Linked DNA regions of Homo sapiens: regions 2 and 3 are each linked to region 1. Evidence: fine-mapped expression QTL. A gene starts in region 1. Each other region holds a variant in brackets. All regions are shown on one strand. Distances are from middle to middle.

Evidence for each region. PIP is the estimated chance that this variant, and not a neighbour inherited with it, causes the effect. A credible set is the group of variants that fine-mapping cannot tell apart.
Region 2: its variant is the best candidate, but not a certain one, in a credible set for the expression of ZFP37 in lung (TOPMed, PIP 0.51).
Region 3: its variant is the best candidate, but not a certain one, in a credible set for the expression of ZFP37 in monocytes (TOPMed, PIP 0.57).

The regions. Positions count from the first base shown.
Region 1 is chr9:113,054,554-113,059,636 of GRCh38, reverse strand. ZFP37 (ZFP37 zinc finger protein) reads left to right here and starts at 2,913. Exons shown (of 4, transcript NM_003408.3): 1 at 2,913-3,080. The coding sequence starts at 2,949. RefSeq lists an enhancer at 2,713-3,282.
Region 2 is chr9:113,136,213-113,141,295 of GRCh38, reverse strand. No RefSeq gene overlaps it. Among named protein-coding and RNA genes, the nearest start is that of SLC31A2, 12 kb to the left of the region's middle. RefSeq lists a silencer at 2,766-2,961. The variant A/G (reference allele first, on the strand shown) is at 3,043.
Region 3 is chr9:113,028,622-113,033,704 of GRCh38, reverse strand. No RefSeq gene overlaps it. Among named protein-coding and RNA genes, the nearest start is that of ZNF883, 19 kb to the right of the region's middle. The variant A/G (reference allele first, on the strand shown) is at 3,036.

The sequences.
Region 1 (5,083 bases):
CGTGTAGAGACTGAGCCACGTGGATTCGCGGAAGTGGGGGTGGGGGCTTGGGGCGGTACCTCACCATAGGGGATTTCCAGGGGAAAGTGAAATGCCCTCGGTGTAGGTCATTCGTAGTGGAAAGGAAAATGCCTGGTCCCTCAGCTTCTTCGTGTGTCCCAAGAAATGTCCTCAATATTTCCAACCTCTGCCCCCAGGGTCAGGAAAATATTCCTGGCAGGTTTTGGTGAGCCTCTGGAATCTCTCCGCCATTCCGCGTTTGCACCCTCGGCTTTGGCAAGGATGAACTGCATCCACGTTTTTGGAAATCAGTCGTCATGTGTTTAATGACCCTTGTGGCTACCTCTTCGAGGTGTGTGTGTGTGTGTGTGTGTGTGTGTGTGTGTGTGTGTTCATGCCAGCGTCCTATGTCTTGTAACTGAAATCTGGGAACTTGTCTCCCTACCCTGTGATGATCACCTGGGGAACTTTGGAGAAGGAGGTGGAAGGGGAATGTCCCACTTCGTGTCTTGGAACAGGTGGCTTCTTTCTTGGGAAAAGAGGTGGGATGGAGAGAATGCACCCGAGCTCTTCAGAAAGGACCTGCACTGATTGGTGATAGGCAGCATGGGCTCAGGAGAGCAGGGAGAGTTAGGGGAGACACCCACGTGCCTGGAATAGTGGAGGGCCATTTGGAGCAAGCCTCAGATGGAGAGCCACATATCGAGGTGTTCGGTCAATCCTTGTGAACCAGAGAGTGTTCCTACGAATGCTAGAGTCTCATAGAAGTAATGTCTCTTTTACGTTTTTTTGCCTGATTAATATTTTCTTCCCCTCCCGGTGCCTTCAAGTATGAATGACAATAAATACCATACATATTTACCGTGTGTGACCTCTTCATTAGGGAATTCACTAGAATCAGCCGAATTCACACAGTTATCGCCGCACTTGCTTCCCCTGTCCCTGTCGGGAGAATTTTCAGGTCTACTCGAATGAATATACTCAACAGTACAACATTATGTTCTGATCCTCCGTACTAACTCATCCCTACCACATATATATATATGTGTATATATATGTATATATATATGTGTGTATATATGTATATATATGTGTGTATATATGTGTATATATGTATATATGTGTATATATGTATATATGTATATATGTGTATATATGTATACATGTGTATATATGTGTATATGTATATATATGTATATATTATGTATATATATGTTGGTTTCAAGAAAATCCTTGAGAAACTGAACTGCCCCTCTTTCTGATTTGTGAGGAAGAAAGGAAAGGAGAGGTATTGAAAAAAATATTGTACCTTTTTACGACTCTAATATCAGGAACAATTAAAGTCAGGACCATATCTGAGGCAGAAACAAAGCAATTGCCTATCCGTACAAAGGTGACGCTCAAAGAATACTCTGTCAGGAACACAGTGTAGGGGGCCGTGTCTTAAGTAGGTGAAGAGTAATTTCAAGCCATCAATTATTTTTCAGTCTTCACTGAGTCCTTAGTTTAGTATTGCTGGATAACAAATTATCACCAGCTTTAGTGGATTAAAGTATCACAAACCTATTATCTCACAGATTCTGTAACCTGGAAGTCTGTGTATATCATGGTTAGGGTGATGGTTAATTTTATCGGTCAACTTGACTGGGCTAAAGGATGCCCAGAAAACTGGTGAAACATTGTTTCTGGGTTTGTTAGTGTGTTTCTGGGAAAAGATTAGCATTTGAATTAGCAAACTGAATAAAAAAGCCCCCACCAATGTGGGTGGCCACCACCTAATCCACTGAGGGCCTGAAAGGACAAAAAGGAAAAGGAAGGGTGAATCCTCTTTTCTATTTTTTTTTAATCTTTAACTTTTGTGGGTACATAGTAGGTGAGTATATTTATGGGGTACATGAAGTAGTTTGATACAGGCATGCACAGTGCAATAATCACATCATGGAAAATGGGGTATCTATCCCCTCAAGCATTTATCTTCTGTGTTACAATCCATTTATACTTTGTTATTTCGAAATGTACAACTAAATTATTATTGGATATATACACCTGTAGTGCTATCAAATACTAGGTCTTATTCCTTCTTTCTTTTCTTTTTTTTTAAAAACCCGTTAAGTATCCCCACTTCCCTCCCACCTTTTCTTTTTTCTTGAGCTGGGACATTCATCTTCTGCCTTTTGACATTGGAGACCCTGGTTTTCTGGCCTTTGGACTCTGGACTTACATCATCCCTACCCCTCTCCACTCTTTTTCCAGTACCTTGCATAGCGCAGCACCTAACCTGCACATATTCAATGAATGCAATTAATGCATGAAATGGCGCATTAAGGAATTATTTCTCCAAGTGCTTGATTATTCTGGTGAAATATCTTCACCAAACCCGGGCTCTCACGGAGGAGTGGTGTGTTTACTTAAGTTTCTGTTTCAGTTTTTCTTATTGTTCTTATACTATATATGAAAAGATTTATCGTATATCTCAAAGATTAACGTCCTCTCCCTATAAAATAATGTTATTTGTTCGATCAGGCTTTTCTCCGTTATGCTTCCAATTTCTCGCATCCTGCCTTTCTAAAGTCCGCACTAAGCGTTGTGATTCCCGGACTTCTAGCCGCTGGCCGCACTGACATGTATTCGGAAAAGCAATTCCAAATTCTGTAAAATATCTTCCGGCAGTGATGCGATCCGAACTCCGGCAGTGGGTTGTCAGGCCCAGGTCAGTCCTGTAGTGCGTAACGGAACTCGGTTCCGGCTGGCTCTGATCGCATCACTCCTGCATCCTGCAAGTAACGCCCTCGCCAGCTTCCACCTCCCGATCTAATTGTCCCAGAAGTCCCCGCACTTCCGCTGTACGGCTGAGTGTTTGCCAAGATGGCCGCGCCCGTGCGCTATTACCGAAGGGCGCCGCCATCGCGGCTGCCGGACCCGCTAAGGCCGCCCTCCGGGTAGCCGCCATGTCGGTCTCCAGCGGCGTCCAGATTCTGACAAAGCCAGAGACCGTGGACCGGAGGAGAAGTGCGGAAACGACCAAAGAGGCCGGGCGACCACTGGAGATGGCTGTGTCCGAGCCCGAGGCCAGCGCCGCGGTGAGAGCTGTGATGAGACAGGGTGTTTTGGCGGTCAGAGATGGTGTACTTGCGGGGCAGTGATTGGAGTAGTCTGTGACGATAGGTGATTTGGGAATTGGTGGAATCGATGCTAGATGGTCTTTTGGGAGGTCGGTGTTCTGAGTTATCTGTGGGGTTAATGATTTGGCTTTAGGATATCAGTATTAGGAGGGATCTGCAGAGACAATGATGGGGAGGCGTCTGTGGCAGTCACCGAGTGTCGGAGTTTGGAAGGAGATCAGAAATGGAGGCTTTGTGATGTGTCAGAGATAGGGAAGGACCGTGGGGGTTGGCGGTTTGGGATGTCTATGGGAGCCAGCGATTATGGGTGCCTGTGGTGGTTAGAGCCTGGGTTATCAAAGAGGGTCAGTGTTAGGATTTGGGAAATTCAGTGATTGGGAGCATCTGGGAGCATCAGAGATTGGGGCTTGGGAGTCAGTGACGGTGATGTCTGTGGAAGTTTGATTAGCAGTATCTTTGAGGGTCAGTGGGTAATGGAGGAATCGGGGGGCCAGTGAGGGGGGAATATGACTGTTGGAGTTTGGGGAGTCAATGTTGAGGTGTCTCTGGGGATGGTAGATGATTTGTATGTCATCTGGGGAGAAAAGGTAATTGGGGATGTATGCAGGTCAATAATTAGGTGGTGTCTAGCAGTAATAACTGTGCTTTGAGTAATGAGGTGATTAGTAGGAATTAATGATTGAAGATCCTCTATGATTCTGTGACTAGAAGTCTAAGGGGGTCAGGAGTTTGAGGGGATTGCTGCATTTAATGATTGAGGGTTCTTTGGTGGTCAGTGATTGGAGATCTGTGGAGGTTAATGATTGTTCTGTGGAGAGTGATAGTTGGGAACTTGCAGAGATCCATAATTGGGAGAAGTTTGTGAAGGTTAGTGATTGGGGAGTATTTGGGTGTCAGTGATTGAAAACTTGCAGGAACAGTAGGAACAGTCTGTAAGATGAGCATTTATTTTATGCCAGGGGGTATTTTTTATTTTATTTGTTTGGTGTTGTTGTTTTGCAGTCCCTGCTTTGTCCTCAAAACCAGGGAATGTTTTAAATGCTGGAGACACACCAGGAAACAAAACCAGAATCCCTCCCTCAATGACTTACATTATAGAAATATGAAAGATATCATAAAATATAAACAAATAAAATTATTCCAGACACTAATAAGTGCTGAAGTAAGTAAAAGAGGATGGTGTGGTACAGAGTGATTGAGGGTAGGGAGTGCATGACTTTAGCCAGGTTAGTCATGGAAAGCTTTCCTTAGCAAATGACAGTTGGGTTGAGGCATAAATCATCACAAGGAGGCAGCCATGCAGAGATCTGAAGAAAGAGTGTTTCAGGAAGAAATAAACATCAACTGCAAAGGACCTGGGGTAGGAGTAAACTTGGTGTGCTTAAAAAAGAGAAGGAAGATTAGTGCTGTTGGAGCACAGTCAGAGGGAAAGTAGAAAGCTGTGAATCATAGTGGTAGGAAGGTATCAGATAATGTAGGATTTTATTGGCTAGTGTAAGGATTTGGATTTTATTCTAGATGCAGTGAGAAGCCATTGAGTTTAAGCAGGGGAATGATCTGTTCTGACTGACACCTTGAAAAGATCACCATGGCTACCTCATGGAAGACGGACTGCAGAGGGGCAAGAGTAGGTAGATATAGGGAGGTCAGTTAGGAACTTTTTGCAATAGTCAAAGACAAGAGATTATGGTGATTTAGAATAGAGTTGTAGCAGCAAAATGAAATCAAATTCAGAATACATCTGGAGATAAGCAATAGAACTTACTAATGTATTGATATATGGAGTATGAGGAAAGAGAAGAATCGAGATTTACATCTAGACTTTTAACCTGAAGAACCGGATGGATGGTGATTCTATTTTCTGAATGGAAAGGGTTATGGTGGAAAAGACTAGATTTGGTGGATGGAAATGGGATCTGGGGTGATGTCAGTGGCTCTATTTTGGCCGTGTCAAAATGCTC
Region 2 (5,083 bases), 82 kb before region 1:
AAATTCGCAATGAAATTTCGGGCACGTATTGTCATTGATAACATCTTATCAGGAGCAGGGTTTGAGAGCAGACAACCAGTCTGACCAAAATTTATTAGGCGAGAATTTCCTCATCCTAATAAGCCTGGGAGCGCTATGGGAGACTGGGGCTTATTTCACCCCTACAGCTTCAACCATAAAAGACAGCCGCCTTCCGAAGCGGCCATTTCAGAGGCCTACCCTCAGGGACACATTCTCTTTCTCAGGAATGTTCCCTGCTGAGAAAAAGAATTCAGCGATATTTCTCCCATTTGCTTTTGAAAGAAGAGAAATATGTCTCTGTTCTGCCCAGCTTACCAGCAGTCAGAGTTTAAGGTTATCTTTCTTGTTACCTGAACATTGCTGTTATCCTGTTCTTTTTTCAAGGTGCCCAGATTTCATATTGTTCAAACACACATGCTCTACAAACAATTTGTGCAGTTAACACAATCATCACAGGGTCCTGAGGCAACATACATCCTCCTCAGCTTACGAAGATAACGGGATTAAGAGATTAAAGTAAAGACAGGCATAGGAAATCACAAGGGTATTGATTGGGGAAGTGATAAGTGTCCATGAAATCTTCACAATTTATGTTCAGAGATTGCAGTAAAGACAGGCATAAGAAATTATAAAAGTATTAATTTGGGGAACTAATAAATGTCCATGAAATCTTCACAATTTATGTTCTTCTGCCATGGCTTCAGCTGGTCCCTCCATTTGGGGTTCCTGACTTCCCGCAACAGTAAACCCAGTGTCTCTGAGATTAGACTGAGCTATGAGGTTCGTTCTTCTTTATTGCTAAGTAGGGTTCCACTGTGTGGATATATTTTTCCTGTCAATGTATATTTGGGTTGTTTCCAGCAACAATAAACTCTCATGTACAAGTGATTCTGTGGATATATGCTTTCATTTTTATTCAGCAAATACCTAGGAGTGGAATTGCTGTGTCAGTCTATTTTCTCTGACACTCAGAGGTCCTTTGCAATTCTTAGAAATACTGCTTTATTAAAAAACGTGATTACTTAAAATGACAAGTCATCACCATAGGGCCTGGAGATTTCCTGGAGCACAAATGCTTGTGATCCTTTAATTATGTTGAAGGGCTCCATTCCAGCACATGAGGCGGTATATTCAGCGCTCTATTGTAGTTTCATGATAGCTTGGGGTAGGCACAGAAAACCAGAACAAAGAAAGAATATGACCTTCACACAGAACTGTATAAAACTTCTCAGAGTAATTATCATTTGAGTCGAGCAATGGAAGACACTAAAATCACTTGATCAGTATAGTCCTTTGGAGAGAAGACTCGGACAGGACTAAATAAGGAATCAAAAACAATAGTTTGGGTCTTGGCTAAGCTGTGTCCTGTGTGACCTTATATAAAGTCATTCAACAGTCTCTGCATCTCAGTTTCTAGCTTGTAAAATGGAGATGAAATCTTGTGAGATGATGACAGATATTCTCTGTCCCCTGCACAGGGATTCTGTGGGACAAGGTAAGATAAAGTCTGCCTAAGTCTCATCCTGGATAAACTGTAAAGTGCCATGCAAAATGAGATAACATCATGTGAAGAGAGGCAGGAACTCACACAGAGCTTGTTTTGTGCTCCGATGACTGGCACTGATTGTCACAAGAACTCAGCTGCCCTTGTTTCAGGGACATTGAACAAGGTCAAACACAGTGACAATAACTCTTTGTGAGCTGCCAGTTGGGCCCGGATGTCCCTCTCCATTGTGTTCATCTCTGCAACGGGGGACTGTTGGGCTCTGGATTCTTCTACATCTGTAGGAGAATCTTTCCCAATGGCACAGCTACCTTCCCACCCCCAAACAATAGGCCCTCAACTCTCTCGGTCCTCACTCATCTTTATTTACCCAACCCATTCTCAGTTCCCCACTGCAGGTGACAAAAAGTTGAATGTTTTATGAAAAGTCTGTTTGGGGTAGTTCTAGCCAAAGATGTCATGGATAAATCTTAAATGGATATAGGAGGTAGTGCAGGCAGCATCATATAATGGCTGTTATTGATTGAGTGTTTACCTGTAAGTGCTAAGGGCTCACAACTACCCTATGAGTTGGGCAGTATGATTAGCCTCAGTTTACAAATGGTGAAATGGAAGCAGTTTTATGGGAAGAACTCAGGACTAGGAGTCTTAGAATCTGAGGGTGCCACCGTTGTCACTACCTGGGCCTGTTTCCTTATCAATAAAATGACAGTGAGGATTATCTTCTTTTAATCTCTGACATCTTTTCTAACACTGACATCCTGTGAGTCCATGTTTGACTCTGGGTGAGTCATACAGCCTCTCTGAAACGCTTTCCTCATCTGTAAAATGAGAGAACCATCACAACCTGGCTGCTCTTTCCCAAAGTGCCATTGTGACAGTGCCCGGTAAGGAGGGAATTGTGCTGAGATGCTAAGTGTATGTCTCTGTTTTCTCTCCAAGGGACCTGAGCCCATAAAAAATGAAGGGTACCTGTGATAAGCAGAAATCAGGCACTGCCTTAGAGGCATTTGCTTGGTAAGGAGTGAATAAATAACAGAGATTGTGAGACATTTTGATATGAGAAAACCTTGGGGATCATTGTGTTAAATACTTTCTATTTGATAGTAGAGAAAACTGATGCCAGAAAAGATAGTGCCTTCCCTGAAGACACTTAGAGGGCAAAGGAAGAGCTGGGGCTGCAGCTCTGGTTCACTGACTTCAGGTATTCTGGTCTATCAGGAACACTTCCAAGCTTCTTCTTCTTCTTTTTTTTTTTTTTTTTTGAGACAGAGTCTCCCTCTGTCACCCAGGCTGGAGTACAGTGGTGCGATCATAACTCACTGTAACTTCCAACTCCTGGGCTCAAGCAATCCTCCTACCTTGGCCTCCCAAAGTGCTGGTATTACAGGTGTGGGCCACTGTGTCCAGCTGAAGCTTCTTACCCTCCAGACACTGACCCAATGTGAGATCTAAATCTCCAACAGGACACCACAGTGGGGACAATACTTTGGCCCCAAACTTTTGAAAGGCTGAGG[A/G]GGGTCATTTTCCATTCCTGTCCCTTTTTAGGGACAGTACAGAACATCTGTTATGCTCTATGAAAGAAAGCACAGTGTGAGCTCCACACCTGCACTGTTGCCCTTCTCTGAGGTTCTTGGATTTAGTGGGAGCCTTTATTCAAGCTGGGATCTCTCCTAGGAGGCAGCCTGTTTCCTCAAGTGTGACTTTCCAGGCGTGGCTCTGCAGATGAGCCTAGGTCAGTGGTACAGCAGAGGGAGGGAGGAGCGCTGGCCTGGGATCAAGGGACCTGACCTGCCAAGGACCAAGCAGTACTGGTGGCAGAGCAGAGCTGGAAGCCAGCTCTGATTTCATCACCACAAGGTCTCCACCTGCCTCTGACTGCTTCACCATTGTACCTATTCCCACACCAGTGCCATGCATTGAGGGCAGCTGAGAGTGTCCGAGGAGCAGCGAGGGTGAGGGAACTGCTATTCAAAGGCAGATTTTGCCTGGACTGTCAACTTTGGTAGGTCTGAACTGAACATTCCCTGGAGATGAACCAGAAGTTGAGAGACAGGGCAGGCTACTGGCACTGTCTAGACTGGCTTGGCCAGTGTAATCAAGGATCATAATCTTGGCTTCTGAGATGCTTCAGAGTTCAAACATTCCTTTTCTGGATTTTTGCAACCTGGATTCATAGACTTCCGGGTGTAAAACAGCCACAGAAGTTATATGCAAAACTTTATGTGCGTCAGTGCAGGGGCACTTCTCTCTCTCGAGAGGATCCATAATTTTAATCAGATTCACAAAAAAGAAAAGAGCAGCAATTCCTGCATTAAATATCTCTGAGCAAAGGAGAGAAATGATCTCAGAGGGTTGTGCAAAGATCATCTTGACAATTCTTCCAAGAAGAATGAAGTTCTACCAGTTTCCTTTTTCTTCTCAGAAAAATGGGCTTTGTGAAAGATAGGGTGTAAATATTTAAATTTCAACAGCTGTTTAGTAAAAGAACATGCTTTTTTTAAAAAAAAAAAAAAAAAACAGGGTGTCGCTATGTTGCCTAGCTTGGTCTCGAGCTCCTGGGCTCAAATGAACCTCCTGCCTCAGCCTCCTGAATAGCTGGGATTACAGCACGCACTACTGTGCCCAGTTTAGGAATCTACTTTTCATCTGCATTGTCTCACTGACTGTCCCAAAAGTGATAGTCCACAGAGGCTAAACAGATTTTCTAGGTTGTACAATTTCTAATGACCAGTTTCCAGATCTTCTGACACCTGCTAACAATCTTTCAACTCCAATTCTGAGACCTGGGCTTGTCCTCCCGCCCTGGGCTGCAGCTGGCCCTCCTTGTCCTGATTGTGAAGCTGAACCAACTCTTCTCTTACATAAAAGATACCAAGGAGGGACTGGCCTCCATAGGGTCTTGCTGCTGAGGTGTTTGGAACACTCCTGAGTTAAGAAACACTGAGCTGCGGCCTGAAGTGCCCAGCATGGCAGTGGCAGTTTTTTGTTAATATTAAGAACTATCTCCCATGCACATGGAGAGGGGCTGCCTGTGTCCCTGAGACAGAGATGTCCTCATATGCATGGTCTGGATGGGCACCTGGGAAGGGAGGGGTGAGAAGGGCCACAGAGCCTGTGTCCAGTGCCTGGGCCTGTCACAGCTTACACAGCTACTGGTGCCACCTGGAAACAGAACAAGTTTCCTGGCTCCCAGACCACAGAATTTCCCCTCCCACCAAACTACCCCTCTGAGGTGTCTTCCCTAAACTACTTGAGTAAGCCCAATAGTTGGAAGAATGACCCTCGATCTCAACTTCCACTCCACTCCTCTACTTTCCGTGTCATTTGAGGAATGTGTGAGTAACCTCTGGGGTGCGAGAATATCCCCAGTGGAGAAAAAAAGACAAAATAAGATCATGATTTTAGCTGAACCCACTTAGTTTTATGAGTAAAAGTGTCCTTTATTTCTAAAACAGTATTCTAGAGCAGATGAGATACATTCACATACTTTTAAAATATCTATTGAGCGTACCTATGTGCCAGCACAGGTACGTGATTAGAATTCAGTGGTGAATG
Region 3 (5,083 bases), 26 kb after region 1:
CTCTTGGTTAGTGGACTGATGTATTCTTCCCAGTGGATGCACACCACCATATAAAGTCTTTGATTCAACGCATACATTGTGCAGGAAAGTTTTTGTAGGGAAAAGAAAGAGAGATCAGATTGTTACTGTGTCTATGTAGAAAAGGAAGACATAAAAAACTTCATTTTAATCTGTACTAAGGAAATTGTTTTGCCTTGAGATGCTGTTAATCTGTAACTTTAGCCCCAACCCTGTGCTCACAGAAACATGTGCTGTATGGAATCAAGGTTTAAGGGATCTAGGGCTGTGCAGGATGTGCCTTGTTAACAAAATGTTTACAGGCAGTATGCTTGGTAAAAGTCATCACCATTCTCCATTCTCAATTAACCAGGAGCACAGTGCACCATGGAAAGCCTCAGGGACCTCTTGGGCTTTCTTGGTCCTTTTTTCTATTGGGTTTTTGATCAATCCCTTTATAATTTTCTGAAGAAATGTGTTTCTTCAATAATAATTTAAAATTTGACTTTGTTTTTGGTTCCACTGTGAATTTAAAATTTGTTTATGTAATCAATTTTTGTTTTCTTGATTTCTCTTGTTTTTGATCTCTTGTGTAGCTTGGAAACTTCCTCCTTTATACCCAGGGATCACTGTCCACTAGGAATTCACTCTCTTATAGGCCTTTTACTTCTCCTTTTCTTCTGTAGTTTTCTTTGCTTAATCTCTGACCCGTTTAAATCATCTTGAGCTTTCCCACATCAGTCTTTGACCTGCTTAAATTCTCTGAAATTAAAAATACCATCTTGTAACCTGCATTCTCATCTTTCTTTCCCTCAACACACAAGCTTTTGAAAACTGATACTATCTTGGTGTTTCTGCTTCCTCAGTTCACATACACACTTCAGTATCATGCAGTAGAGCTTCTGTGTTCATCATTACTCTGAAACAACTTCTATAATACGAAGTCCATCTTGCTGTTATCAAATCCAAGGGATATTTTCTTGTCCTTAACTTAGCAGATTTTTTTGTTGCATCTAACATTTAATCCTCCACTCTTCCTTGAAATATGTCACCATTTGTTCTTTTGACGCCGCCTTCCTTCATCTTCTGCTCCCTCTGTTTCTCCTTTATTTCTTTCATCAGCACCTCTTTCTCTTCTTATCCTTTGCCAGTTGGTATTTTCCAGGGCTTCATCTTTTGTGCCTTGCATTTCCTTGTCTGTGTGGTTTTCCTGATTGATTACATCTCTTGTTTATAATAATCTATAAGAATCGCCTCTTTTAGATGTGTCTTGATCGTATTTGACTAACTGGAGACAATATTTGGATTCTAAATTTGATTGCAGTAAGTAGCATAATAAAATACATTTGTGTTGCAGTAAGTGCACATATGCACACGTCTGCAGCACATAAGATTTGTTGAAGCGAACTAAATATGGCCTGAGAAGGATTCTGTACTTCTGTGTTTGAGTCCTTGTGGATAAACTGTAACCTAGCTTAATAGGCAGACAAGATTGAAAACCTAACTTAGAAGTGTGGGCCTGTAACAATAGCTGAGTCTTGGCCAATCCCAGCAGCCGTACTTCAACCACGCATAGACTGCTAAGTGTTCAAACTGTGTTCAAATAAGGCAAATGCCAACCTGTAACCAATCCAGCTATTTTTGTACCTCACTGCCAGTTTCTGTATGTCCCTTCCCTTTTTTTGTCTGTAAATTTGTTCTGACCATGAGACATCCCTGGAGTCTCTCTGAATCTGCTGTGATTCTGGGGGCTGCTTGATTTGTGAACCATTTACTGCTCAATTAAACTCCTTTTAAATTTAATTCAGCTGTTTTCTTTTAACAGATTTGATATATATTTTTTCCTCATATGCATAATACCATTTTCATGTAATGAAATTTCCATTTAATACCTTTTCCATGTAATACCATTTTCATGTAATGTCTGATTCTTGCCTCCTCTCACCTTATATCTAGCTGGGAGTGGAAGGAAACATGGAACAGAACATCCAACACACCATGATCATCCCGGAGTTTTTGGACAGTAAGAATTACTTTCATTGTTTAAAGTAAGGTAGACATCATACACTAGTGGAGTAACATTTAAAAATTCACCAGAATGCATTTGTTTATTTCCAATTTTTTATGTGGTAAAATACACATAACATAGAATTTACTATCTTCATCATTTTTAACAGTACAGTTCAGTGTTACTAAATGTATTCATAATGTACAACCATCACCATTCTCCATCTCCATTACTCTGTTCCTCTTATAAAACTGAAACTCTATACCCATTAAAAAATAACTCCTCATCCTCCCTACCCTCCTGCTCCTGGAAACAACCATTCTACTTTCTGTCTTTATGCTTTTGCCTAATCTAAGTGGTATATTTTGAATGTGTGCCTCAAAATTCATGTGTTGGAATTTTGGTCCCTGGGTAGAGGTGTTGGGAGATGGAGCCTTTAAGAGGTGATTAGGTTGTTAAGAGGAATTAATGCCACTCTCCCGGGACTGGGTTAATTCTTGCTGAAGTGAGCAAGTTCTCACTCTTACAGGACTGAATTACTAACCACTAAAGCCAATTGTTATGGAGCAAGACCTCCCCTTGTGATTTGTGCCTTTCACATGCACTCATTTCCTCTTCCACGCCTCTGCCATGTTATAATGCAGCACAAGATCTCCCCAGAAACTGACCAGGTGCTGACACCCAATATTGGACTTCCCAGCTGCCAGAACCAGAACCCCTTGTGATAGTTTGCTGAGAATGATGGTTTCCAGCTTCATCCATGTCCCAACAAAGGACATGAACTCATCTTTTTTATGGCTGCATAGTATTCCATGGTGTATATGTGCCACATTTTCTTAATCCAGTCTATCATTGATGGACATTTGGGTCTTTGCTATTGTGAATAGTGCTGCAGTAAACATACATGTGCATGTATCTTCATAGCAGCATGATTTATAATCCTTTGGGTATATACCCAGTAATGGGATAGCTGGGTCAAGTGGTATTCCTAGTTCTAGATCCTTGAGGAATCGCCACACTGTCTTCCACA[A/G]TGGTTGAACTAGTTTACAGTCCCACCAACGGTGTAAAAGTGTTCCTATTTCTCCACATCCTCTCTCCAGCACCTGTTGTTTCCTGGCTTTTTAATGATCACCATTCTAACTGGTGTGAGATGGTATCTCATTATGGTTTTGATTTGCATTTCTCTGATGGCCAGTGATGATGAGCATTTTTTCATGTGTCTGTTGGCTGCATAAATGTCTTCTTTTGAGAAGTGTCTGTTCATATCCTTTGCCCACTTTTTGATGGGGTTGTTTGATTTTTTCTTGTAAATTTGTTTAAGTTCTTTGTAAATTCTGGATATTAGCCCTTTGTCAGATGGGTAGATTGTAAAAATTTTCTCCCATTCTGTAGGTTGCCTGTTCACTCTGATGGTAGTTTCTTTTGCTGTGCAGAAGCTCTTTAGTTTAATTAGATCCCATTTGTCAATTTTGGCTTTTGTTGCCATTGCTTTTGGTGTTTTAGTCATGAAGTCCTTGCCCATGCCTATGTCCTGAATGGTATTGCCTAGGTTTTCTTCTAGGGTTTTTATGGTCTTAGGTCTAACATTTAAGTCTTTAATCCATCTTGAATTAATTTTTGTATAAAGTGTAAGGAAGGGATCCAGTTTCAGCTTTCTAAGTATGGCTAGCCAGTTTTCCCAGCGCCATTTATTAAATAGGGAATCCTTTCCCCCATTTCTTGTTTTTGTCAGGTTTGTCAAAGATCAGATGGTTGTAGATGTGTGGTATTATTTCTGAGGGCTCTGTTCCATTGGTCTATATCTCTGTTTTGGTACCAGTACCATGCTGTTTTGCTTACTGTAGCCTTGTAGTATAGTTTGAAGTCAGGTAGTGTGATGCCTCCAGCTTTGTTCTTTTGGCTTAGGATTGTCTTGGCAATGTGGGCTCTTTTTTGGTTCCATATGAACTTTAAGGTAGTTCTTTTCCAATTCTGTGAAGAAAGTCATTGGTAGCTTGATGGGGATGGCATTGAATCTATAAATTACCTTGGGCAGTATGGCCATTTTCATAATATTGATTCTTCCTATCCATGAGCATGGAATGTTCTTCCATTTGTTTGTGTCCTCTTTTATTTCATTGAGCAGTGGTTTGTAGTTCTCCTTGAAGAGGTCCTTCATATCCCTTGTAAGTTGGATTCCTAGGTATTTTATTCTCTTTGAAGCAATTGTGAATGGGAATTCACTCATGATTTGGCTGTTTGTCTGTGAAATTTAATGTATTTCTATGTAATCCAAAGTCATTTGTAGGCTTTAAAAGTGTAGTTTTCTATAAAGTGGTAAGAAGGGCACCAGAATAACACAAAAGAGGGCAGCAAAGTGGCAGCTGACAGGCTTGCCATGCTACACACTTGAGTAGTTCTGCACATGGAACTCCTGTTTACACACTTCTGTTAGTTTTAACTCAGTACAGTATTGAGACAAATACTGTTATGCATAGCATAAGTTCTTTGTTTCCTTGTGGTGATCACAGTGAATTTTTTAAAGCTTTTATTGGATGTTTCTGCCACACAGGAATTTTGTTAAGCAATTTAGCATATACTTCTTTAATTTTAAAAACAGGGTCTTGCTCTGCCACCCAGGCTGGAATGTGGTGGCACAATCATAGCTCACTGCTGCCTCAGCCTCCTGGGCTCAAGCCTCAGATTGTGAAATAGCTGGGGCCACAGGTGTGCATCACTGCACCCAGCTATATATTTTTTTATTTTTTTGTAAAGATGGGGTCGCACATTGGTGCCCAGGCTGATCTCAAACACCTGGGCTCAAGCAGTCCTCCTGCCTCATCCTCCCAAAGTACTGGGATCATAGGTGTGAGCCACTGCACGTGACCTATACTTCTTATTTAATTATTACAAATCTGTGGTCTGTGAGGTACAGCAAATCTGTGAGACTGGCATTTTCTCCATTTTGTAGATGAAGCAAGTAGAGCCCAGGAAGAGTCCCTGCCCCCGCTAAGGCCACATGGCTAGTAAGTGTAAGATGGTGCTTCAGACCAAGTTTTTAGCCCCCACACTGTTCTGTTCCACTGGGCACATGGAAGG